7 linked regions of the Homo sapiens genome follow. The protein of the gene in region 1 purifies or fractionates together with the protein of each later gene. This does not show direct contact. Each region holds a gene or a part of one and is shown in the gene's direction. Other genes may lie near its edges. The genes, in order: KATNB1, WDR62, BTK, MPHOSPH9, SEC16A, PTPN2 and TUBA3E.

Region 1 (2,487 bases):
TGGCCCAGGAGCGTCCTCTTCAACCCAGACGGCTGCTGCCTGTACAGCGGCTGCCAGGACTCACTGCGTGTCTACGGCTGGGAACCTGAGCGGTGCTTTGATGTGGTCCTCGTCAACTGGGGCAAGGTGGCCGACCTGGCCATCTGCAATGACCAGTTGGTGAGAGAGCCATGGCACCCACCGCCCCCCACTCCCACAGGGCCACCCGCCTCCCTCCAGCCCAGGCCCCTCCTCCTACCCCCACACTGGGGCTGGGATTTTGCCCCCTCGGCTTGCAGTCCCAGCCCCACCTCTCCGCTTTCTGCAGATAGGTGTGGCCTTCTCCCAGAGCAACGTCTCCTCCTACGTGGTGGATCTGACGCGTGTCACCAGGACTGGCACGGTGGCCCGGGACCCTGTGCAGGACCACCGGCCCCTGGCACAGCCACTGCCCAACCCCAGCGCCCCCCTCCGGCGCATCTATGAGCGGCCCAGCACAACCTGCAGCAAGCCTCAGAGGTGAGGGCCTGGGGGGCCTTCGGGGGCCCAGGAGAGGGACTGTCACAGGGGAAGCCTCGGAGTTCCAGCCCTGGGCCTCACAGGGCACCTGCTTCCGTTGGGCTTGGCCTCACGCTCCCAGGGTGAAGCAGAACTCAGAGAGCGAGCGCCGCAGCCCCAGCAGCGAGGATGACCGGGACGAGCGCGAGTCCCGCGCGGAGATCCAGAACGCCGAGGACTACAACGAGATCTTCCAGCCCAAGAACAGCATCAGTGAGGCCGGGCTCCCGCCCCCAGCCCAGCGTCCCCATCGGTGAAAGGGAGGCTGGGGGTCCTTCCAGGGTAGCCTGCTGTGGCTCCGCATCCCTTTAACTTCCTCCTAACCCACACCTGGGCTCCGTATCCTGTCCTCACGTTCCCTGGGCCTTGCCAGGCTGTGCTCTGATGGAACTGAGAGGGGGGCCTGGGCACTCCCCAGCAGCGGCCCAGCAGCTGCTCAGTGTCCCAGTCCCTGCCCTGCCAGGGACAAGTGGGCTGGGAGGGGCAGGACTGAGGGTTCCTGGGACCAGGAGCAGGGTCCACAGTCTGCAGCCGCATGCCTGGGAGCTACCCTCCGTCCCCCGCACTCTGGACAGGGCCCTGGGTCCCAGGTGGCCTGGCCAGGAGCGCTCACAGCCAGGGGCCTCTTTCCTCTGCAGGTCGGACGCCACCCCGGAGAAGTGAGCCCTTCCCTGCACCCCCAGAGGACGGTGAGTTGGGTGAGCCTGGTTTCCCAAGGTCTCTGATGCCCCCCCGTCCCTCATCTTCTCTTCCTGTGAACCCTCCCAACAAGCCCCTTCCCAGGACCCTCCCCTCTCAGGACACGACCCACACCCTCTCCCGCTGGGTCTCTGCCCTCTGCCTGTTATGTGCCAGGTCCCTGCAAGACCGATAGTGCCCCCGTAGGAGCCTGTGCCCTGGTGTGTGGGGGACAAACATGGACACCACCACACTGGGGGGCCTGCCAGGGGCACTCGGGCTGTGGAGGATGGAGAGGAGTCACTGGGGGCCCACCTTAGATGGGGTCTGCTGTAGACGGGATGATCGGGAGGCTCTCAGGAGGCCCAATGCCTGTCAAGGCCTGGGGGCCAGTGAGAAGAGAGAGAGAGAAGTGCTTCTGGCAGGAAGGGAGCTGAGAGGAGGTGAGCTGGGGCGAGTCCCAGCAAGAGGTCAGGCCCACAAGGCCTCAGCTGGGGGTTTGGATTAAGAAGGGAGAAAAATGATCTGCACTGTGGTTGGAGAACGGGCAGGCATGGGGCCACCTGTCCTGTAGAGTACCCCTGCCCTCCCCTCAGGGACCGTCCTTGCCGTCAGTCCTGGCTTTCCTAGGAGCCTCCACTTCCATCTTGCCAGTCATCCCAGCCCCCTCCACATACATGCCAGTGAAGGGACAGGATGGCCACATCCTAGAGCCCCCTGGGTCCCACCCACAGGCAGACCTAAGGTTGAGTTGGGGGAGAGGGAGGAGGCAGGTCCAGGCCTGCCCCAGGTCCTCTGGAACCCCCACGCCACTGGCCTGCAGCCTCCCCCATGCTCCTGCTCCATCCCCCCATTGCAGATGCTGCCCAGAGTCCCGCCCTGAGCCCTGCCCTTCTTGCCAGGCCCTTCTGGCCGGACCCAGTCATCTTTTCCTTTTGCCTCCAGACGCAGCCACAGCAAAGGAGGCAGCAAAGCCCAGCCCTGCCATGGATGTGCAGTTCCCGGTGCCAAATGTATGTCCATGGAGGGAGCATGGTGTGGGGCCTAGAGAAGGTCCTGACCCAGGGTTGGGGGTGCCTCGGGAGGCAGAGAGGGAGGCCCCAGGCCGGCAACCGCTGAGTTTCACACTTTCAGCTGGAGGTCCTGCCCCGGCCCCCAGTGGTTGCTTCCACACCTGCACCCAAGGCTGAGCCTGCCATCATCCCTGCCACCCGGAACGAGCCCATCGGGCTGAAGGCCTCCGACTTCCTGCCCGTGAGTAGGAGCCCAGCT
Region 2 (3,500 bases), on another chromosome or scaffold:
GCTGGGAAGGAATTGAGGGACCCAGCAGGTGTTCCTTCTTGGTTTTTTTTTGTTTTTGTTTTTGAGGCAGAGTCTTGCTCTGTTGCCCATGCTAGAGTGCAGTGGCACCATTTTAGCTCACTGCAACCTCCACCTCCTGGGTTCAAGTGATTCTCCTGCCTCAGCCTCCCAAGTAGCTGGAATTACAGGCGCCTGCCACCATGCCTAGCTAATTTTTTGTATTTTTAGTAGAGACGAGGTTTCGCCATGTTGGCCAGGCTGGTCTCGAACTCCTGACCTCAGGTGATATTGCCCACCTCAGCCTCCCAAAGTGCTGGGATTACAGGCGTGAGCCACCGTGCCCGGCCACCAGCAGGTATTTCTTAGAAGCTGGGCTCTCCCAAGCCTGGCCTCCAGGTCAGCAGAGGGCTTTCTTCTGGCTCTCCCTAGAGCCGGTGTGGGATGACTAAGGTGCTGATGTGGCACATAAACTCCCTCATTCACCCGTATTCCCTGAGCACCTAACTGGGCTGGATGGTGCTGGGATCATGGCAGTGGCCAGGATAGCCCCAGGCCCTCCTTCATGGAGCTCACAGTCCAGTAGAATGGACACGGCCACCTCACAGCCACAGACAGTGACAGAGTGGTCAGAGATGGGGGAGCCCAGGGGCCCTGTGGAGACACCTGACCCCACCTGCGGATCAAGCAGGACTTCCTGGAGGAAGAGACACCTTAGCCTGGGGAGGATGTGGAGGAGCGAGCCAGGGGGAGGCAGAGAGTGAGTGTGCAGAGGGCAAAGCAGTGCAAAGAGGCTCTGCACCCCTTCCCAGTTCTTTCTCATGCGGTGCCAAGCACTGAGCTTGCAGTGTGTGGGGGAGATGAACATTAACTCAGTGGATACCCCAGGACAACCTCAGCTTGAGATGGGGTTTCAGTTTCAGTCTAGGCATCAGATGGGGACAAGAGGTAGCAGGGGGCTTCCAGGGGAGGGGAGGACAGCAAGAGCCAGAGAATGAGGTGGTGGGGTAGGCGGGGCCCTGTTGGCCGCAACATGCCCCTACTTCCCCAGAGTCTACAACACTGTGAACGGGAAGCAGAAGAAGTGCTACAAGGGCTCCCAGGGTGACGAAGGGTCCTTGCTGAAGGTGAGGAGTTGGAGACCCCTGTCTGTCTGCTGCCCTGATGGGCCACCTATTGTGACGGCCCACACCTGAGACCTGTGCCCTTGGTCCTTCCTCAGTGCACCGCGCTGCCCAGCACCTTCTCAGGCCTGGTTAAACAAGGATGCTTGCGAGAGGGTGGGGAGGGTGACCCCAGCTGTGTTTCCTTTATTTACAGAGCCCTTCCCCAAGTGGGGCGTCTAAGTGGGTTCCATTTTGAGTGGCAGCAGGGTATGGTGGGAAGAATCAGAGGCATGAACTCCCCTCCTGGTTTGCCCACACCAGCCACGGGTCACTCAGGACAAGGGGGGACCTTCTCAGAGCCTCTGGTCTAGGACAGTTATGGGTTCAGGTTCTGCCTCAGGCTGACTGTGTGACCTTGGGCAAGCATCATCTCTTGAAATGCACACAGACAGCTTGTCTCATAGACTTGTTCTCTGGAGGAGTTCAGTTTGCACATGTTCAGTGCTTAGCACAGGGCCTGGCTACTGTTGTTACTGCTGCGGTGGTTGTTAATTTCTTCACGTGTCGAATGGGAGCGGGAGCTCCTGCCCTGCCAGAGTCCCATGTGCTGTGCATGCAGCACGGGGGAGGGAGGGGCCCAGGCCTCATCATAAGGAAGAAGCAGGCAGCTGGAGTGACATGTGGGTCCCTTTCCTGGCAGGTCCATGTGGACCCCTCAGGCACCTTCCTGGCCACCAGCTGCTCTGACAAAAGCATCTCAGTGATTGACTTTTACTCGGGCGAGTGCATTGCCAAGATGTTTGGCCATTCAGGTGGGTGTGCCTCTCTGCTTGGGATGCCTCCCCACCCGCCCACACCCTCTGACTCCGAAGGCAAGTGCAGCCTCTCTGCTTTGTTTGCAGAAATTATTACCAGCATGAAGTTCACCTATGACTGTCATCACTTGATCACAGTATCTGGAGACAGGTGGGACATGGACCTTTGGGAGAGTTGTGGCTCAGATACCATGAGCACTGCACTCAGCCTGCCTGTGTAGAGAGCATTTCTAAACTGCCCAGTTTGGATTGTGGGAGTCTTGGTGTCACACCCAGCCCTGAGTTCAAATACCAGCTCTAAGCTGGGCATGATGGCTCACGCCTGTAACCCCAGCACTTTGGGACGCTGAGGCGGGTGGATCACTTGAGCTCAGGAGTTCGAGACCAGCCTGGGCAACATAGCAAAACCCTATCTCTACAAAAAATTAGCCGGGTGTGGTCATGTACACCTCTAGTCCCAGCTACTCAGGAGGGGGAAGATGGCTTGAACCTGGTAGGTAGAGGTTGCAGGGAGCACAGATCATGCCAGTGCATTCCAGCCTTGGTGACAGAGCAAGACCCCGTCTCAAAAAAAAAACAAAACACTAAAAAAACATATCCCAGCTCTGCCATTTATTTTCTTGTCACCTTGAGCAGGTTATTTCCCCTGAGCCTCAGTTTGCTCCCCTGTAAAAGACACCACCGTTTACATTTACCTTAAAAATGGTGTGATGAGGCCGGGCGCAGTGGCTCACGCCTGTGATCCCAGCACTTTGGGAGGCCTAGGTGGATGGATCATCTGAGGTCAGGAGTTCAAGACCAGCCTGGTCAACATGGAGAAACTGTGTCTCTACTAAAAATACAAAAATTAGCTGTGCGTGGTGGCAGGCGCCTGTAGTCCCAGCTACTTGGGAGGCTGAGGCATGAGAATGACCTGAACCTGGGAGGTAGAAGTTGCAGTGAGCTGAGATCGCGTCACTGCACCCTAGCCTGGGTGACAGAGCAAGACTCTCTCAAAAAAAAAAAAAAAAGAAAATTGTATGGTGAGAAATGAATGAGATGATATACATACATTCTTTAGCACATGGGTGGTACTCAAGGAAGTCCCTTTTGTCACTCCCTTTGATTTACCCCAGTTCTTCCCCACAGCCCCCTTCCTCAGGTCTTGAGGCCTCCAGAACAGGCCCTGGTTTGCTGGGATGCCCCAGACCTGGGCCCAGGGTGTGGATGTGGCAAGTCCAGCACCCCTGCACTAAGCGGATAGGGGTGTGTTTTCCAGGAGCATCTGGAGAATGGGGTCCAGGCTGTGGTGTGGGTGGCTTCAGGGTCAGCCACGGCAGCGGCTCCCATGCTTACTCTTCCTCTGCCTTGTGTGTCTCTCTTTGACCTCCGCAGCTGCGTGTTCATCTGGCACCTGGGCCCGGAGATCACCAACTGCATGAAGCAGCACTTGCTGGAGATTGACCACCGGCAGCAGCAGCAGCACACAAATGACAAGAAGCGGAGTGGCCACCCCAGGTCCTGGCAGCCCCTGCCTGTCCACCAGAGGGATGAGTCCCTGCCAGGGCCCCATGGAGTGATGCTGGGGACACAGTGGTGGCCA
Region 3 (3,500 bases), on another chromosome or scaffold:
AGAAGGAGGTTTCATTGTCAGAGACTCCAGCAAAGCTGGCAAATATACAGTGTCTGTGTTTGCTAAATCCACAGGGTGAGTGCTACTATTCCAAGGCCCTGAGGACAAAGAACAGGGGTACCCTCCTAATAGCTCCTTGATGCTGTGCCCGTCCCACTTCCTCTGTCTCTGAAACTCAAAACTCATCTCACTTCACTTCCTGGGTTCTGTTGACCTTTGTGCCCAAGTTACTGACTAAGCATCCACTTCTTCAGGGACCCTCAAGGGGTGATACGTCATTATGTTGTGTGTTCCACACCTCAGAGCCAGTATTACCTGGCTGAGAAGCACCTTTTCAGCACCATCCCTGAGCTCATTAACTACCATCAGCACAACTCTGCAGGTGAGTACCAGGGGCAACTGAGAAGGGAGTTACAGACACCAGGATAAGCAATGCAGGACAAGGTGATAAGAGGAAGAATCTGCCTCACAGGACAGTGTGAATTCACTGTGAAAGGAAATCCCTGTGATACTGGGTAGAAGCTGGTAAAGAGGTGGTCAGAGGCAGACCTACACCCAACAGGGACTGACTCTTTATTTGGTGATTGATGTTCAGTGTTAAGAGAAGACACAAAAGAGGCTGGTGACTGATTCATCAGCAAGTATTCATTGAGTTCCTACTGTGTACTCAGCGATTTCCTCAGTTCTAGAGGAGAACACGGGAACATTCTGAGTCGAGGTCCTTGTCCTCAAAGAACATACAGGTTAGACAACATCAGAAGAAAGTTTATAAGCACTGTAAAATTTCTAAAAACTGAGACATTAGTGAGGGCATGGATATGGGGGAACAGCTTCATCAAGAAGGTAGGATGTGAGCTAAGCCTGGGCTGGGAGGTGGGAATATATTCAGTTAGGCAGTGTATTTCAATTAGTATTTTCTCTTTTTTGTCCCTGAAAAGTATTTTGTGAGAGGAGAAACCTCTGGAAATATGTGGGTTCATGGAGGTCTTCTGGGATTCAAAATGTACTAGAAAGATACACACCGGAAGTGTGAGGCTTTAAGTGAGGATGTGTGAGGCATCCCACCTCCTACACCACACCAACAGCATGACCTCTCTCTCTGTTTCAGGACTCATATCCAGGCTCAAATATCCAGTGTCTCAACAAAACAAGAATGCACCTTCCACTGCAGGCCTGGGATACGGTAACTCCTTATTTCTCTGGGGTAGGGTGGACTGGCCAGTTGCAAAAACTACCTTTGCTGGCCTTGCCTTAGGGAGTGTCCTTGAGGTACACTGTTCTGCAGCAGCTGCCTCAAGGACGCTCAAGACAGATCCAAGCAAAAGTTATTCACTGATTTTCTTCCTCTAGTGGCTACGACTGGGACTGCAAAAACATAGATTCATAAAGGGCTTTGTCGTTGTCTTGGGTCTTTTTGTCTTTTATTTTTAATTGTGGGAAAATTTTCAGTACTATCCCTGAGTTCATTAACTACCATCACTAACATAATCATAAAGGGATTTGGGGAGGTTGCTTAGTCTATCTTCTTGCCTTATGGCCACCTTGAACCTAAAATTCCCAGATTCCTCTAACCAATGAATCCCGTTTCTGAGATTGACTTAAGCAAAGACAGATTAGTACTTCTAAAAATTTCCCTTTTACTAGTTTTCCTATTTCTACCCCAGTAGGGATTTTTGTCTATTGTAAGAATTATACATTCATGACCCCAAAGAATCACACCAAGACTTTATTGTTAGGATCATGGGAAATTGATCCAAAGGACCTGACCTTCTTGAAGGAGCTGGGGACTGGACAATTTGGGGTAGTGAAGTATGGGAAATGGAGAGGCCAGTACGACGTGGCCATCAAGATGATCAAAGAAGGCTCCATGTCTGAAGATGAATTCATTGAAGAAGCCAAAGTCATGATGTGAGTTATAGCCCAAACTCAACTCTCAATCTATTTGCTGGAGTCTAGGAATTCACACAACAACCCACTGAGGCTTAAAGATGACTTACAGTAAGAGAGGTTTGGGACGAGGGACTGAAGTTTACCTTTAACTGGCGGTAGTCCTAAGTGCTAAGATAATAGTTTCTGTGCCTTAGATATTGGTTGAGAATAGTGGTGATCATGGGTGTGTACCATCTCAGTAGCATTTGGGGGTAGATGTAGAAAATTAAACTTTCAAGAGAAATATTCTAATTTAGCCTTAGCGTTCTTTCATTCCTGGACTTGTTTCTTTTTCAATTGATGGGCTCCAAATCCCTGCTTGCTTCCACATTTTAAGCACTTTTGAGATTTAGGGTGGGAAAGAGGAAAATAAACTTGCTGGTGTGACCCCTTATCTGATGCTCTACTCCTAGGTCAGCCCCTTCCTCCCCAGCCCCTTTATTGCTATTATGCAGAGCCAAAAGGAGAAGACTAGTTCCTTGCCTTTCCTGTAGGAATCTTTCCCATGAGAAGCTGGTGCAGTTGTATGGCGTCTGCACCAAGCAGCGCCCCATCTTCATCATCACTGAGTACATGGCCAATGGCTGCCTCCTGAACTACCTGAGGGAGATGCGCCACCGCTTCCAGACTCAGCAGCTGCTAGAGATGTGCAAGGATGTCTGTGAAGCCATGGAATACCTGGAGTCAAAGCAGTTCCTTCACCGAGACCTGGTGGGACCTTAGAAGGATTGGCCTAGGACAAAGGGCTGATGGGGTGGAAGTAGCAGTGGAAGATATATCATACATGGTTGAGGGGGGCTGCTGGTGCCATCATTTCAATTTTATCTAGAAAGTACTATAAGTTAGGCGTGCCTCTGCCCCAGTGCTGAGCCCATCAAATATCTCCAGCCTCAGCTCCATGAAGTCTGCCGTGGTGGGAATCAGAGCAGTCACTCACTCCCAACCCCCTACCACCCACAAGAAAATGGTGGGGTCTTTCAGTGGCCATTCTGGATTTGGAACAGAAGGGACTGTGCTTCCCAATGGGACTGCTCCTGGCATGGGGCCATCATTTGGTTCCTTCAGAGTCACATACTGGGGCCTGTGGATGCATTTGGCCCACATGTGTGGGTTTTTTTTATGTTATATAATAATTAGCAAACCCTTAAAAAGAAACATTTCGCTTAAAAAAAAAAAAACCCTGGAATTTCCAGCTTCTCTTGAAAATCTACACCGTCTGGAAATACCAGGTCCACATTCTCACGAACCGCCTCCTTTCCTCTAGGCATGTACTCTCCATTTCCTGCAATCTCGATCCACTTCACTTCACTCTTACTTAACTTGCCTGGCCCCTGTAAGCATCAGAGTTTGCGCCCCTGTTTCTTTCAGTCAGGCCAAGGCTCAAATTGTCCTAGTCTCACTGGCAGAAAAGCAGAAAGCAAAAAAACTTACTTCTCATTCTCCCTTCTTTGTTTTTTGTTTGTTTTGTTTTGTTTTGTTTTGTTTTGAGATGGAGTCTCGCTCTGTTGCCCAGGCTAGAGTGCAATGGCACCATCTCGGCTCACTGCAAACTCCGCCTCCCAGATTCAAGC
Region 4 (3,500 bases), on another chromosome or scaffold:
GGCCAACATGGTAAAACCCCATCTCTACTAAAAACCCAAAAATTAGCTGGGCGTGGTGGCATGCACTTGTAATCCCAGCTGCTCAGGTGGCTGAGGCAGGAGAATCACTTGAACCCAGGAGGTGGAGATTGCAGTGAGCCAAGATGGTGCCACTGCACTCCAGCCTGGGTGACAGAGCGAGACTCCGCCTCAGCAAAAACAACAACAGAAAAAAGTGGAATTAAAAATTCCACTTTTAAAAAATTCTGGCTGGCTTGAGCTGGGCATCATAGTTTACACCTGTAATCCTTGTACTTTGGGAGGCTGAGGTGAGAGGATCACTTGAGCCCGGGAGGTCACACCATTGCACTCTAGCCTGTGTGACAGAGTGAGACCCTGTCTCAAAAAGGGAAAAAAAAAATGCTGGTTAGTGTTTTGTGAAATTAAATGGATTGTGCCTACTATTTCATATGTAGTAGGTCCTCAGCTATTAATTTCTTCCCCTTTTCCCAGAATTGGTGTTGATTTTTCATTTGTTACACCTCCATTCATTTTCATTTGTTATGCGATCCATTTCCACCATAGTTATGAGCAACTTAATTTGCTGTATTCTTTTTTTTTTTTTTTTTGAGACAGTTTCACTCTGTCGCCAGGTTGGAGTGCAGTGGTGCGATCTTGGCTCACTGCAACCTCTGCCTCCCGGGTTCAAGTGATTATCCTGCCTCAGCCTCCCGAGTAGCTGGGTCTACAGGCACATGCCACCACGCCCAGCTAATTTTTGTATTTTTAGTAGAGACGGGGTTTCACCATGTTGGTCAGGATGGTCTCGATCTCTTGACCTCGTGATTTGCTTGCCTTGGCCTCCCAAGTGCTGGAATTACAGGCATGCACCACTGCGCCCGGCCAATTTGCTGGATTTTCTTTGAGTAAGAAAGGTACATTTAAAAAAAAAATTTTTTTTTTTTTTTTTTTTTGAGACGGAGTCTCAGTCTGTCACTTAGGCTGGAGTGCAGTGGTTCCAGGTTCAAGTGATTCTCCTGCCTCAGCCTCCTGAGTAGCTGGGATTATGGGCATGCGCCACCATGCCTGGCTAATTTTTGTATTTTTAGTAGAGAGGGAGTTTCGTGATGTTGGCCAGGCTGGTGATCCACCCACATCAGCCTCCCAGAGTGCTGGGAATACAGGCGTGAGCCACTGCGCTGGCCCATTTTTTTTAAATTTAAGAGCAAAGAAATAAAACTATTCAGTAAATGTACATCAATGTACCTATTTCACCTCTGTATTTTTTTTTTTCTTTTTTTTTTTTCTTTGAGGCGGAGTCTCGCTCTGTTGCCCAGGCTGGAGTGCAGTGGCGTGATCTCAGCTCACTGCAATCTCTGCCTCCCAGGTTCAAATGATTCTCCCACCTCAACCTTCCAAGTAGCTGGGATTACAGGCACCTGCCATCATGCCCAGCTATGTTTTGTATTTGTGTAGAGACAGGGTTTCACCATGTTGGCCAGGCTGCTCTCGAACTCCTGACCTCAGGTGATCCGCCCGCCTTGGCCTCCCAAAGTGCTGGAATTACAGGCATGAGCTAGTGCACCCGGCCTTCATTTCTGTATTTTGATCAGGTAATGAAAGAGTACCTGGGGAAAAGGAGAGATACTATTAAAGTAACCAAGAGACATAAAAATGAATGACATATACAGACAGACAGATGGGGCAATGTACTTGTAAGCATCAGAGTCTCAGTGACGGAAACCAATGTTCCGTACTTCATGAAAGGAACAAAAAGACACAGGTCAACACAGAGAAATGAAGTATGAGGGGGGTAAGATTGTAGGGGGCAAGGCAGGCTTAGTAGGCTTTGCAATTGCAGGGCTCACAGTGTTATCTGATCTTGAACATCAGTAAGTGGATACTGCATTTTGTTGACTCTACGGTATTGTCAACTTTAAGGTTTCCCATTTCATGTTCTACCAAGAAAAATTTATAAATTAGACTGATACAATGCTTTTTTTTTTTTTTTTTTTTAACCACTTTAGAATTTATATTTTATTCTTATGGAAAGAGTCTTTAGACTTAAACATAGGTTTTATTATGTATCAGTAACTTTTTTTTTTTTTTATTAGAGAGAGGATTTTTGCTGTGTTGCCTAGGCTGGTCTCAAACTCCTGGGCTCAAGTGATTCCCCTGCTTTGGTCTCCCACAGTGCTGGGATTACAGCTGTGAGTCACTGTGCCTGGCCTATTATATAACTTTTTTTTTGAGACGGAGTCTTGCTCTGTTGCCAGGCTGGAGTGCAGTGGTGTGATCTCGGCTCACTGCAACCTCCATCTCCTGGGTTCAAGCGATTCTCCTGCTTCAGCCTCCTGAGTAGCTAGGACTACAGGCATGCACTACCATACCCAGCTAATTTTTTTGTGTTTTTAGTAGAGACGAGGTTCCACCATGTTGGCCAAGATGGTCTCGATCTCCTGACCTTGTGACCCACCTGCCTCAGCCTCCCAAAGTGCTGGGATTACAGGTGTGAGCCACTGTGCCTGGCTTATTATATAACTCTTATGCATACTTTAAAAAGGAAAACATAAGTGAAATAAAAGTGGCTAAAATTCTTTCCTTCTCAGAGTGTTATACTCTTCTCTTCTCATCTCTTCTCTTCTCTTCTCCTCTCCTCTCCTCTCTTCTCTTCTCCTCTTCCTCTCTTTCTCTCTTTCTTTCTTCACGGTCTCACTCTGTTGCCGAGGCTGGAGTATAGCAGCTTCATCATAGATAACTGCAGACTCAACCTCCTGGGCTCAGGCGATCCTCTTGCCTCAGCCTCCTGAGTAGCTGGGACTACAGTCATGTGCAACCACACCTGGCTCATTTTTTTTTTGTTTGTTTGTTTTTAGTAGAGGCAAGGTCTCTCTATGTTGCCCAAGCTGGTCTCTCAAACTCCTGGACTCAAGCAATCCTCCTGCCTCAGCCTCCCAAAGTGCTGGGATTACAAATGTGAACCACTATGCCTGGCCATTTCTCTCTCTTCACCTTGGTGTTAGTTTCTGTGTTTTCCCACGTTATCTTCCTCTAGCCCACCAAGAGCATCAGCGATTCTGCATTTCTTTAAAAAGAATAGAAAGGCCTTTCTGCTTTTTACCTGTCTTAGTAGCATGTAGGACTAGCCCGCTTTGGACTCCCATGTGGAGTATGTTGCTAAACGTGTCTGATTCACCGTTCTCTTAAATATTGGTCCTCAGGAGCTTCATTGTAGTGTGTAGGTTTGTCTTCCAAGCTGCTGATACCTATTTGGCCAATTTTGAGCTCATGAGCAGGGAATGACAGTCTGTCACAACCACAACTTGGCCCAAAGCAATAGCAATTATAAAATGCCATTAATTACAAGAGGCATCCCTACTTTAGAGATGTTAACATGACAAGAACATAAAAGTGGTGAAAAGTGGTACTTTTCTATTCCCATGAGCTTTGAGTAGAATAACCCCAACTATTCCCCCAGACCACCAGGCTGTGGCCATAGCTGGAGTAATGCTACTCTTCAC
Region 5 (3,500 bases), on another chromosome or scaffold:
CGCAGCAATTTCAGCAGTGGCCCCGGCTTCCCAGAGTATGGCTACCCTGCCGACACCGTCTGGCCTGCCATGGAGCAAGGTGTGTGCTCAGCAGGACAGAGGGATACCGGCTAACCCCACTGGGGCGGCCACCCAGCCTGGCATCTGAACACGGGAGTCAGGGCTGGGATTGGAATTGTGATGTCCTGGCCTGGCTCTGACCCAATCCGTCCTTCCGAGAAGCAGGGTGTGTCAGGACGGGCCGATGCTGTCTCTTCGATTGCAGTTTGGTTTAAGGCCTGAGAGCTGCCCTGCCTGCCCCGACATGCGTTTTAAAGTGTGACTCTGAGGACAGCTCATATCCAGGCTCTGGGCAGCCCCTGATCACATCCCCATCGCAGACCCCGTGGCTCAGCAGGCGTGCAGGAGGGAGCTGCTCATTCCCCTTGGAGACTCCGCTCCTGCAGTTGTCCCGCGTGTCAGTCAGAGTTCCCTTCCAGGATGCTCAAATGCTTTTTCTTGGCAAATTGCAGAAATATACGTAAAGATATAAAGTTACAGAATTTAATGGTAGGCTGAGTTTTTTTGTTTGTTTGTTTTTTGGTTTTTTTGAGATGGAGTCTCACTCTGTCTCCCAGGCTGGAGTGCAGTGATGTGATCTTGGCTCACTGCAACTTCTGCATCTCGGGTTCAAACGATTCTCCTGCCTCAGCCTCCTGAGTAGTTGAGATTACAGGTGTTTGCCACCATGCACAGCTAATTTTTGTATTTTTAGTAGAGATGGGGTTTTGCCATGTTGGCCAGGCTGGTCTCAAACTCCTGACCTCAAGTGATCCATCCTCCTCGGTCTCCCAAAATGCTTGGATTAGAGTGTGAGTCACTGTGCCCGGCCTTACTTTCTTAAAGTATTGTTTCAGTTAACATTTTTTCATTTCTTTTTTTTTAAGAGACAGAGTCTCACTCTGTCACCCAGGCTGGAGTGCAGTGGCACGGTCATGGTCTCTGTCTCCTGGGTTCAGGTGGCCCTCCTGCCTTGGATCCTTTCAAAGTGCTGGGATTACAGGCATGCACCACTATGCCTGGCTCCTTATTTTCTTTTTTGCTTGAGGTGTTTTGCTGTCCTTTTTGCTGGGTGCTGTGTGGTCATCGCAGTCTGAATTTGATTTTGTGAAAATGGAAGAGCTCGGGAGTGGGCCAGGCCTGGGAGGATTACGCACCGTGGCAGGAGCCTCAGGGCGGCTCATGAGGGTGTTGCGGGAGCTTTCTCAGTGTACAAGGGAACAGCTTTCATGCTTAATGATTCAGACATTTTTCTTTTCCTGACGTATGCTGAAGTTCTACTTTTAAGTATGATATTAAACAATTACCGACTTTTGAGTTGGAAGTCTGTCGTGATAAATCTAACCTGTGATTTAAGCTGTGTGAGCACATTGAAAATCTAGGCTCAGAAGCATCAGTGACAAGCTGATTGTTTCTTTTTCAATTTATTTTAAATGCAGTTTCATCAAGACCAACTTCTCCTGAAAAATTTTCAGTGCCTCATGTCTGTGCCAGGTTTGGCCCTGGCGGTCAGCTTATCAAAGTGATTCCCAATCTGCCTTCAGAAGGACAGCCGGCCTTGGTGGAGGTCCACAGCATGGAGGTAATGGCACACGCAGAAGCGTGGCGTCACTGCTCTGCTGCCCTGGGGAACTCTCTGCTTTGCAGTTTGTCATCTTCAATTGTCAGACCTTGTCTCTGGACATACGTCCTTGGAAAATGTTTATTCCTGTGAATTTTCAATTTGTAGGGTTTTTCTTCTATTTGATCATATATTTTTCCTCCTAGAAGTCAGTATTGTAAGCGTCTGCCTTGGGTGTTCAACGTGGTTTGATTGTATATGCATTTTCTGTCCTCGTTTTGGGGATGTTTGCTTTATTGGTGCTTTTCAATGATAGATGCAGTGGGTGGGCCCGGTGCTGCCCAGGTGAGGGGGGCGGGTGGGGTGGACGTGCACGGCGCTGCCGAGGTGACGGGGGCTGGCATGCGCCTCTTCCTGCAGCTTCTGCAGGCTTCTGTCACATGTATTGGGGTTCTGCCTCAGTATTTGGGGAGAGAAAATGGATTTCACTACTTAAAATAAAGTTTGAAATCATGGCTGTGGTCCACACAGGCCATGTTCCATGTAACAGCCTCGACAGAGCCTTCACCTGCTGTGGGGCGGGGCAGGTGGGCCATGCCATCCTCTCCTCTCACGGGCAGCATCCGTGCCTGGGTTGGCCGGCCTGCCAGCAGGGTGGCTGCGCACTGGCTGCCACTGACCCACGGCCCTCTCCTCGTAGGCCTTGCTGCAGCACACGTCTGAGCAGGAGGAGATGCGGGCGTTCCCGGGACCCCTGGCCAAGTATGTTCCTTGTTGAGGCATTTCTTTGTGAGCCCGGCCTTGCAGACATCACTGCTCACTGTGTGTTCTTTCTGCAGAGACGACACCCATAAGGTGGATGTCATTAATTTTGCACAGAACAAAGCTATGAAATGTTTGCAGAATGAAAACTTAATTGACAAAGAGTCTGCAAGTCTTCTTTGGAATTTTATTGTTCTCTTATGCAGACAAAATGGGGTATGTTTCTTTCTACTTCTAGAGTGTTTCTTCTTGCTGGTCTTCATTTCGTCTTGGGAATGCTCAGCCTCCCGAAGGAGCAGGGCGGGATCCGCGTGGCCAGCTATGGGAGCCTCGAGGGCCCCCTTAGGAAGCACACTGTAGTGGCTGGGTAGGGAGGGAGAGGGAACGTGCGGTTGGGATGGGATGAGGTTTCAGCCCAGCCTTGCCAGCCTTTCGGGTAGTTGTGGGTCTGGCTGTGTCCAGGGTGGGGCTTTGTGCCTGTGGTGGTCCAACGCGTCCTCACCTGAGAGCCGTTGTTCTCCTTCCTGTTCCTGTTGACCCAAACAGACCGTGGTAGGGACCGACATTGCGGAGCTTCTGTTACGAGACCACAGAACAGTGTGGCTTCCTGGGAAGTCGCCCAATGAAGCAAACCTGATTGATTTCACGAATGAGGCAGTGGAGCAGGTGGAAGAGGAGGAGTCTGGTGAGGCCCAGCTCTCTTTCCTCACTGGTGGTCCGGCGGCTGCCGCCAGCTCGCTCGAGAGAGAGACCGAGAGGTTCAGGGAGCTGTTGCTGTATGGCCGTAAGAAGGTGCGCCTCCTCATCATGGCACCTGGCGCCTGCACATGTCCACTGGGTCGGGCCTGGTGCGGGGTTGCAGCCTTCAGGGAGGGACGTGGCCCCCTCTTGGGAGCATCCGCGCTGCAGTGTGGGGCTTCGGGTCTTGCTGTTTCCTGAACAATGCCTGACTCTTGTATGCCATCCTTCTGGAGGTGTTAATGTTGGTTTCCTTCTAACTGTTTCCAGTGTTGGAGACCTGCAGATTAAATTTTCAGTTATTCGATAAATGCACATGTTGAGCACAGGCCGTGCCCCTGCTGTGTGTGCCAAATCTCGGATGAAATGTGCATGACACAAGTTGTGGCATTCTCACAAA
Region 6 (3,500 bases), on another chromosome or scaffold:
AAGGGGAATGAGCAGAAAGGTTGACTCCTGCCATGACTTTTAAAAAAAAAAATAGTCCTTATACTAGCCAGAACTGGTTATAAATCCTTCCTTTAACCAATGACTGGCCAGAAGGAATGAGATTACTATGATTGGTTTGGAATCAGTTGTGAATCAGCTAAAGAATCAAAGTCCTCCAACTACTTGAGGGGTTGAGATGTGGGGAGGGATGAGTAGGCTGGGATAGTTGTTGTGTACATAACAGTTATAGCTGGAGGGTTAAATTATCGTTGTTCTTTCAGAGGAGAAAATGCATAGCAAAAATCTTAGCAATGATCTTGCATTGATTCTGTTTCCTGGGTTCCAATAACAAGACTTGTCTCATTTTTTGCCTTTCTTGCAGATGGAAAAAGGAGATGATATTAACATAAAACAAGTGTTACTGAACATGAGAAAATACCGAATGGGTCTTATTCAGACCCCAGATCAACTGAGATTCTCATACATGGCTATAATAGAAGGAGCAAAATGTATAAAGGGAGATTCTAGTATACAGGTAAACTTCATACAGGTTTTAAATCATATCTATTTGTTAAATACACATAGCATCAAATAACTGCACTCCACTTGAGCCCTTGTCTTTGTTTCAAAGAGTGTATTTGAATTTTTGTGGTAAATCCAGCTGGCTGTCTTAAAATTGTAAAATTTTAGCTAGCTTCCTCATATATACTCAGCCTCAGGTTAAATCCTGTGTGTTACTTAAAAGCCCTTGTAGAAACAAGATTTCATTAAAGAAACTGAATTTTTCATTTTGGGGGTGGTTAATCTTTTAATTATTAAAGTAACTGGAAACTTGAGATACTTTTGCCTTCATTAAACACTGATACTTGGTTTATGTGATATTTGACTTTATAACAACAAGCAACTTGAATATTTATGGCAGATATAATGAAATTCCAGCAAAATGTTATATTCTTCTGGTTGGTGGCTTTATTCTCATTAAGCTATTTTTACTGCATATTTGTAGAACCTAAGTTCAAAGACTGATCAGAAACTTGTGTTATGTACTAAGTTAAAATGTAAAATAGAAACAACCACAGACTCCATTTTTTGTCTGGTTTAATCACATAGTATTGGACATAAGCAGATACTGTAAGTTGATGCATAATATAAGAAGATCGACTGTCTTTTCATTATGTTTCTCATGTGTGAACATATTTACTAGCACTTTCATTTCTCTGATTACTAGCCAATATAAGAATGTAAATTAGATCGGACCATTGGTGTCAGAATAAAGGTTTATTTAAAAAGATTTTTTCCAAATCTTTAAATAGCATTAAAATATTCTTAATGCACAGAAACATTAGGGCACTCAGAGCCAAAATACGCAATGTTTGGGAAACTCAGCCCATTAGAACATGTCCTGCTTCAGACGCCAGACTTTGGGAACACTGGATTTGCCAGGGTCACTTTGGCAGTGATCAGTGATTTAGGTGAAGTAAAAGTTATTTCAGATGTTTAAGATTAGGAAAATTTCCCTTTCTAATCACAGTGAGCTTTCACCAACTTAAATCTGGAGTTCAAAAAGAAAAGTAGTTCAATCAGATTTCCCCATGCCTTCACAGCCTGCATGCCGCCTTCCCTGCCTGCTTCCTGGCTGTGATGAGACGGGTAACTGGGAGGGAAATGTATTGTCCTTTGGATTGTGTCTTTCCTACCACTGCTTTTTTTTTTTTTAAGTTTTGTGTCTTTAGTTTTAGAATACATACTTTATCTGAGGGTGGATCTTTTTTTATCACAGAGATGAGTTTTTCTGGACACACTTTTTTGTGGAGTCTTTGACAGTGCAGTTTGTGGCTAGGAAGGATTTTTTTTCTGTTAATTTATCTGGTGTGATATTGTCCTCAGGCTCTCAATTCTAAGGCATTTTCTGCCCCTATTCCAGATAGGATATTGGAAACATCTTTATCCTTCAGGTACTCAGGATCAGAAAAGCATGCTGCCCATTCCAAGGGGTTAATTTCTGCAGAAATGGTCTTGGCATTCTGAGAATCTTTTTTAATTGGTGCATTTAGACCATCGGCATATGAAGTGATTACTGATAAAGTTGGATTAATAAATACATACCACACATGCTACTGGTTTTTTTTTCTTTTTTTGAGACGCAGTTTTGCTCTTGTTGCCCAGACTGGAGTGCAATGGCACAATCTCGGTTCACTGCAGCCTCTGCCTCCCAGGTTCAAGTGGTTCTCCCCACTCAGCCTTCCGAGTAGTTGGGATTACAGGTGCCTGCCACCACTCCTGGCTAATTTTGCATTTTTAGTAGAGATGGGGTTTCACAGTGTTGACCAGGCTGGTCTCGAACTCCTGACCTCAAGTGATCGCCCACCTCGGCGTCCCAAAGTGCTGAGATTACAGGCGTGAGCCACCGCACCCAGCCCAAAGTGATTGTATCTTAAGTCTGTAAATATGTGTAATTATAATCTTAAAGCATGTATTCATTTACAGAAAACTTCCAATGACTTTGACATTCCTATAGACATATAGGCTATTTGCAATTGCCTTTCAGCACAAGGTCAGGCATAAATACTTAAGCTGGTTGCTGGTATTACCACATATTTATTAGCATATTCCCAGTATTGATGATGACAGTTAACCCCCCAGAGTAAATATCTAGTTTGGCAATTCAGAACTAATGTTGTAAGATCTCTAGCTGGTAATTTGATATTACTAATAAAGTATTAAATGTAAATGATAAACTTTTAACAAATTACAGAGGATTTGAAGTTTAATTGCATTGCTTAAAGCTTTCTTCAGTGAGAGAAATGGGTAGAGCTAGGGTTCTAGGCATTGTGTGGGGGGCATGGCTCCTAGTGGCAGTGACTCATGGGTTGGTGCAACGTGAGCACAGAATTAGAAAGAAAGATGAAACAGTACCAGGCCTCAAAATGAGAGCTCCTTTGAGGTTATAGTTTAGTGAAATGTAATTCCTTGGCTTCACCAGTCAGCATTAATGACCTGAGGCAGGTGACTCAGGAGTGCTGGCTCCCTTGTGTGTCACAGGGAGGACAGAGACGAGTGAGTTTGCTGAACCTATATAGGCATGAGTGAGTTTGCTGAACATAGGCACGAGTGAGTCTGCTGATCATAGCCATGAATGAGTCTGTCGAACATAGCCATGAGTGAGTTTGCTGAACATAGCCATGGCAAAATGACATTGTTGGGTTTGTGGGGTTTTTTTAATTCACTAGCATTAAATATCTCTTTTATTTCTCTCTCTGCCGAGTGCTTTCCTTGTTGACGTATTCTGAATTTGTTGCATATTCTGGGAAGTGGTCCAGTGAGACTTGATTTTTGGTGTCATCTTATTTGTTGACATTGTTGAGTGTTGTCCAGCTATAAGGCCAAGTTACATAACTAGGTCTCAGTCAAGAGTGGAAACTTCAAAAATTGACCAGTGTAAATTCTGGAGACAATTTAACATTTTTGTGGGGTACTTTGTTGAACACACATCTTTATAA
Region 7 (4,043 bases), on another chromosome or scaffold:
GGTAAACAACTTAGGAACTGCCTCTTCTTTTCCTTTAAAAACCCACTTATAACTGCTGCTAATATTTTAAGACAACTTGCATCTCCAGGGTTGCACTTCTCAAACTTGGCCCAAATAAACTATTTTTTTTTTCAAGATGGAGTTTTGCTCTGTCACCCAGGCTTGAGTGCAGTGGCGTGATCTCAGCTCACTGTAACCTCTGCCTCCCGGGTTCAAGGGATTCTCCTGCCTCAGCCTCCTGAGTAGCTGGGATTACAGGCGCATGCCACCATGCCTTGCTAATTTTATTTTTTGTAGAAACGGGCAAGGTGGGACTCACCACGTTGCCCAGGCTGGTCTCGAACTCCTGACCTGAAGCAATCCTCCTGCCGTGGCCTCCCAAAGCACTGGAATTACAGGCATGAGCTGGTGTGCCTGGCCCAACCTCTCCACTTACGTTAATTTTGCCTCCTTTCTTCCTTTTTTTTTTGAGACAGAGTCTGGCTCTGTTGCCCAGGCTGGAGTGTGCTGTGGCCCAATCTCGGCTCACTGCAACAACTGCCTCCCAGTTTCAAGCGATTCTCCTACCTCAGCCTCCCGTGTAGCTGGGATTACAGGTGCCTACCACCAGCCAGGGTAATTTTTGTGTTTTTAGTAGAGATGGGTTTTCACCATATTGGCCAGGCTGGTCTCGGGAACTCTTGACCTCAAGTGATCCACCCGCCTCGGCCTCCCGAAGTGCTGGGATTGCAGGCGTTAGCCATCGCGCCCGGCCCGTTTTCTCCCTTTGGGTCAGAAAAGTGATTGAATCCTGCCACTTCCCGGGTGCTGGGTGGGAACAGGGAAGAGGGGGATAATTGCGGTGCTGCTGTGACTTGGGTAGATGGCGGCAAGGCCTCTCAGAGGTGGCCTTGTTTGCAAAGATCTGAATTAGGCAGGGAGAGGAGCAGGCCTGGGGCAATCAGGGAGGGGCAGTGGCACACTGGGAGCAAGGCAATGTTCCGCGACCCACAGAGGCAGCGCAGTAGCTGTTCCAATCCTGGTCGGAAGACACCCCGGAAATGCCTCAGCAACCGCGCAGCCTTTGATGACCCCGCTGCCTTCCCGCCAATCCTGCATCCAATCAGAGAGCATCCCCACTACACGTGTTGAGCAACGGCCAATCAGAACTGGGATCCGGCCCTCGGCCTGCCTCCCAGGAACTCCGAGCCAATGGCGGCCTGGCACCGGCAGGCCAATCCTGTGCGGCGCGCGTGGGCAGGTCATTGCAGTTGGGCGCTCAGCAGCTGTGGCAGCCGGTTGAGGTCTGGAAGTAGCGTTGGGCTGAAGCAGCGGAGTTCGCCATGGTAAGACCCGGGTCACTCCCGCCCCGCAGATGCCCAGGCAGACGAAGTTGGCCTCGGGTGGACAGAGGGACGTTGTTGCGGGCCTGGGCGCTGAGAGGAGGCCAGAGAAGGACGCAGGGTCTAGTGCGGGACAGGAGGACACGGGATCGTTTCCTGGATCTGCAGGTCCCAGGGCAGGGACGGCGGCTTTTGTTTTAGATGAAGCTGCCGGCCTTTAGTGGACGGGGACCATTGACGGTATCCCGTCCCCCAGAGAGCAAATAGTGGCGTCGCCTCCTGAAGACAGGAGGGCGCTGCTCCCGCTTCACACGTCTTTGTGCTACTGGAAACAGCTGAGGAGCTGCAGGAGCCTTCGGTGACGGGGGTTGGGGCTGTGGACATTGGTCAGATGAGGAATTAAGGCTCAGACGCTGCTGCAACATTGCCTTGTTCACCTAAAGGCAACCGTTAGGCCAGGCGCGGCGGCTCACGCCTGGAATCCCAGCCCTTGGGGAGGTGGAGGCGGGCGGATCCCCTGATGTCTGGAGTTCAAGATCAGCCCGACCAACATGGCGAAACCCAGTCTCTACAAAAAAATACTAAAATTACCCGGGCATGGTGATGCGAGTCTGTGGTTCCAGCTACTCGGGAGGCTGAGGTGGGAGGATCAGCCGAGCCTGGAACTTTGAGGCTGCAGTGAGTCGTGATGGCGCCAGTGCACTCCAGCCTGGGCCACAGAGACCCTGCCTCAAAAAACCAAACAAAAAAAGCAGCCCATTAACATAACAGATTCCCAAGTCCCAAGTCTGAATAGCTGTGATTTGTCAGTTATCCTTTTTTTCCTTTCTTTTTCTTTTTTCTTTTCTTTTCTTTTTTTTTTTTTTTTGAGACAGCACTCAATAAATGCTCTGTTGCCCAGGCTGGAACACAGTTGCAAGATCACGGCTCCCTGCAGCCTTGAACCCCTGGCTTCCAGCAGTCCTCCCGCCTCAGCCTTCCGAGTAGCTGGTACTACAGGTGTGTGCCACCACACCTGGCTAATTTGTAAATTTTTCATAGGGACAGGGACTCACTATGTTACCCAGGCTGGTCTCAAACTGGTCCCAAGTGATCCTCTCACCTCAGCCTTCCAAAGTGCTGGGATTACAGGAATGAGCCACCACACCCAGCTTGGCAGAGTTTAAAGAAACCACCAAAGGACAGTGCAGTGTCCCAGCACTGATGATGTCTGGGAGCCATTACACCCGTAGGCTTCAAGGGGTAGAGAGAGGGCGTGGTTACAAGAAATTAGGAGGGTAGTTTTATGAAGAGGGCAGCCTGCCAAAAGTGTAGCCTTGAGAGGGATTCAGGTCACCCACAGCAGTTGAGCAGGAAGGGGCCAAGGAGGGAGTACCCTGGCACTGCTTTCCTCCAGCCCCCCAGTATCCCACTGCTGCCTGCCATTGACCAAACCAGCAAGAAGCCAGAGGGCGAGGAAGGCCTCTGATGCTGTTCTCAAGGGTCAGCCTTCGAGAGCACAGAGCAGGTGGTGAATGATGGACGGGGTAGAACTGGGGGGCAGAGAGAGGACACACACTGAGCACCTGGGCTTGGACCATGGTGACCTGGGACCTACTCTGTATTTCCTTACCCAACCCGACTACCTTATCCTTTGATCAGGACATAATCAAAAACTGCTACTTATTCTTCAGAGAATTACTGTGACGGGCTATAATGTGGGGTTGATTATTGACATTAAATGGCTTCCAAGTTTTAAAATAACCTAAGTTTTGTGTAGTGGCAAACAGGTTCTAGGGCTACTTCTAGAACTTACTAGCTAGTATGGTTTACAGCAATTAGTTTTCACAGCGATAAAGGGATCAGTCACTAACCCTCCTAGGAAATATCGATTGTGAAAGCGCCAGATACTGAAGCACTATATAAATATTAAATTAGAATATTTTGCATGCCATATAGTTTCAAGTTGCCTTGAAATGAATGGGTTCACATTTATGTTCCGGTTCACAGCGCGAGTGTATCTCTATCCACGTGGGGCAGGCGGGTGTCCAGATCGGCAATGCCTGCTGGGAACTGTACTGCCTTGAACATGGAATTCAGCCCGATGGTCAAATGCCAAGTGATAAAACCATTGGTGGCGGGGACGACTCCTTCAACACGTTCTTCAGTGAGACTGGAGCTGGCAAGCACGTGCCCAGAGCAGTGTTTGTGGACCTGGAGCCCACTGTGGTCGGTAGGTGCCTGGGCACTGGATGGCAGCTTTCCTGAGAGGGTGGGAGAGCATTGGTAAAGCCCCGTGTGGGCTCCTTTGAATCCTCCTGCTGAAAGGATGGGATAGACAGGCATATGCCCATGGCATTGTTAGGAGAGAAACTGAAAGGTTTGTGATGAAAGTGTCTGTGAGACTCGGCTCCTAATTTAGGAAAACCTGACCTACAGGGAAAAGCTGCTTTGCCAGCAGTAAGATGGGCTGTGAAGAGATTCCCTCATGGCTGCCTCAGCCCTGCTCAGGTGGCCCTGCCTGCAGGGTGCAGTGGCATTGGTTCCCTCCCGAATGCTGTGCATTCTCTTATGCTGGTGCACGAGAGTCTTGACCTGCATCTTAGGCATAGAAGGTAAGTACAGAACAGTCATTTGCTTCCTTCAGATTCGCAGCCTGAGGTAGTTTCCAAGGAGAGCTACAAAGAGGCAGCACCTTTCAGTGGCCCCCCAGGAGATGACAGCATCACCTGAAAGCCTGTG

Evidence for each region.
Region 2: the proteins of KATNB1 (region 1) and WDR62 purify together in Homo sapiens (tandem affinity purification; one large-scale study listed by IntAct). This does not show direct contact.
Region 3: the proteins of KATNB1 (region 1) and BTK purify together in Homo sapiens (affinity purification with mass spectrometry; 2 studies listed by BioGRID and IntAct, with this or other methods). This does not show direct contact.
Region 4: the proteins of KATNB1 (region 1) and MPHOSPH9 purify together in Homo sapiens (tandem affinity purification; one large-scale study listed by IntAct). This does not show direct contact.
Region 5: the proteins of KATNB1 (region 1) and SEC16A purify together in Homo sapiens (tandem affinity purification; one large-scale study listed by IntAct). This does not show direct contact.
Region 6: the proteins of KATNB1 (region 1) and PTPN2 fractionate together in Homo sapiens (co-fractionation; one large-scale study listed by BioGRID). This does not show direct contact.
Region 7: the proteins of KATNB1 (region 1) and TUBA3E purify together in Homo sapiens (tandem affinity purification; one large-scale study listed by IntAct). This does not show direct contact.

Annotation. Positions count from the first base shown.
Region 1 is NC_000016.10:57,752,770-57,755,256, forward strand, and holds part of KATNB1 (katanin p80 WD40 repeat-containing subunit B1), read left to right. Parts: intron 1-8; coding exon 9-159; intron 160-307; coding exon 308-498; intron 499-619; coding exon 620-750; intron 751-1,175; coding exon 1,176-1,226; intron 1,227-2,160; coding exon 2,161-2,228; intron 2,229-2,349; coding exon 2,350-2,469; intron 2,470-2,487.
Region 2 is NC_000019.10:36,089,397-36,092,896, forward strand, and holds part of WDR62 (WD repeat-containing protein 62), read left to right. Parts: intron 1-1,048; coding exon 1,049-1,124; intron 1,125-1,803; coding exon 1,804-1,915; intron 1,916-2,005; coding exon 2,006-2,069; intron 2,070-3,292; coding exon 3,293-3,415; intron 3,416-3,500. UniProt on the Homo sapiens protein: Required for cerebral cortical development. Plays a role in neuronal proliferation and migration.
Region 3 is NC_000023.11:101,355,192-101,358,691, reverse strand, and holds part of BTK (tyrosine-protein kinase BTK), read left to right. Parts: coding exon 1-75; intron 76-254; coding exon 255-382; intron 383-1,108; coding exon 1,109-1,183; intron 1,184-1,736; coding exon 1,737-1,908; intron 1,909-2,423; coding exon 2,424-2,640; intron 2,641-3,500. UniProt on the Homo sapiens protein: Non-receptor tyrosine kinase indispensable for B lymphocyte development, differentiation and signaling. Binding of antigen to the B-cell antigen receptor (BCR) triggers signaling that ultimately leads to B-cell activation.
Region 4 is NC_000012.12:123,205,642-123,209,141, reverse strand, and holds part of MPHOSPH9 (M-phase phosphoprotein 9), read left to right. Parts: intron 1-3,500. UniProt on the Homo sapiens protein: Negatively regulates cilia formation by recruiting the CP110-CEP97 complex (a negative regulator of ciliogenesis) at the distal end of the mother centriole in ciliary cells.
Region 5 is NC_000009.12:136,462,541-136,466,040, reverse strand, and holds part of SEC16A (protein transport protein Sec16A), read left to right. Parts: coding exon 1-79; intron 80-1,478; coding exon 1,479-1,621; intron 1,622-2,300; coding exon 2,301-2,362; intron 2,363-2,439; coding exon 2,440-2,578; intron 2,579-2,908; coding exon 2,909-3,154; intron 3,155-3,500. UniProt on the Homo sapiens protein: Acts as a molecular scaffold that plays a key role in the organization of the endoplasmic reticulum exit sites (ERES), also known as transitional endoplasmic reticulum (tER).
Region 6 is NC_000018.10:12,811,238-12,814,737, reverse strand, and holds part of PTPN2 (tyrosine-protein phosphatase non-receptor type 2), read left to right. Parts: intron 1-382; coding exon 383-535; intron 536-3,500. UniProt on the Homo sapiens protein: Non-receptor type tyrosine-specific phosphatase that dephosphorylates receptor protein tyrosine kinases including INSR, EGFR, CSF1R, PDGFR.
Region 7 is NC_000002.12:130,195,640-130,199,682, reverse strand, and holds the start of TUBA3E (tubulin alpha-3E chain), read left to right. Parts: upstream 1-1,243; 5' UTR 1,244-1,322; coding exon 1,323-1,325; intron 1,326-3,311; coding exon 3,312-3,534; intron 3,535-4,043. UniProt on the Homo sapiens protein: Tubulin is the major constituent of microtubules, a cylinder consisting of laterally associated linear protofilaments composed of alpha- and beta-tubulin heterodimers.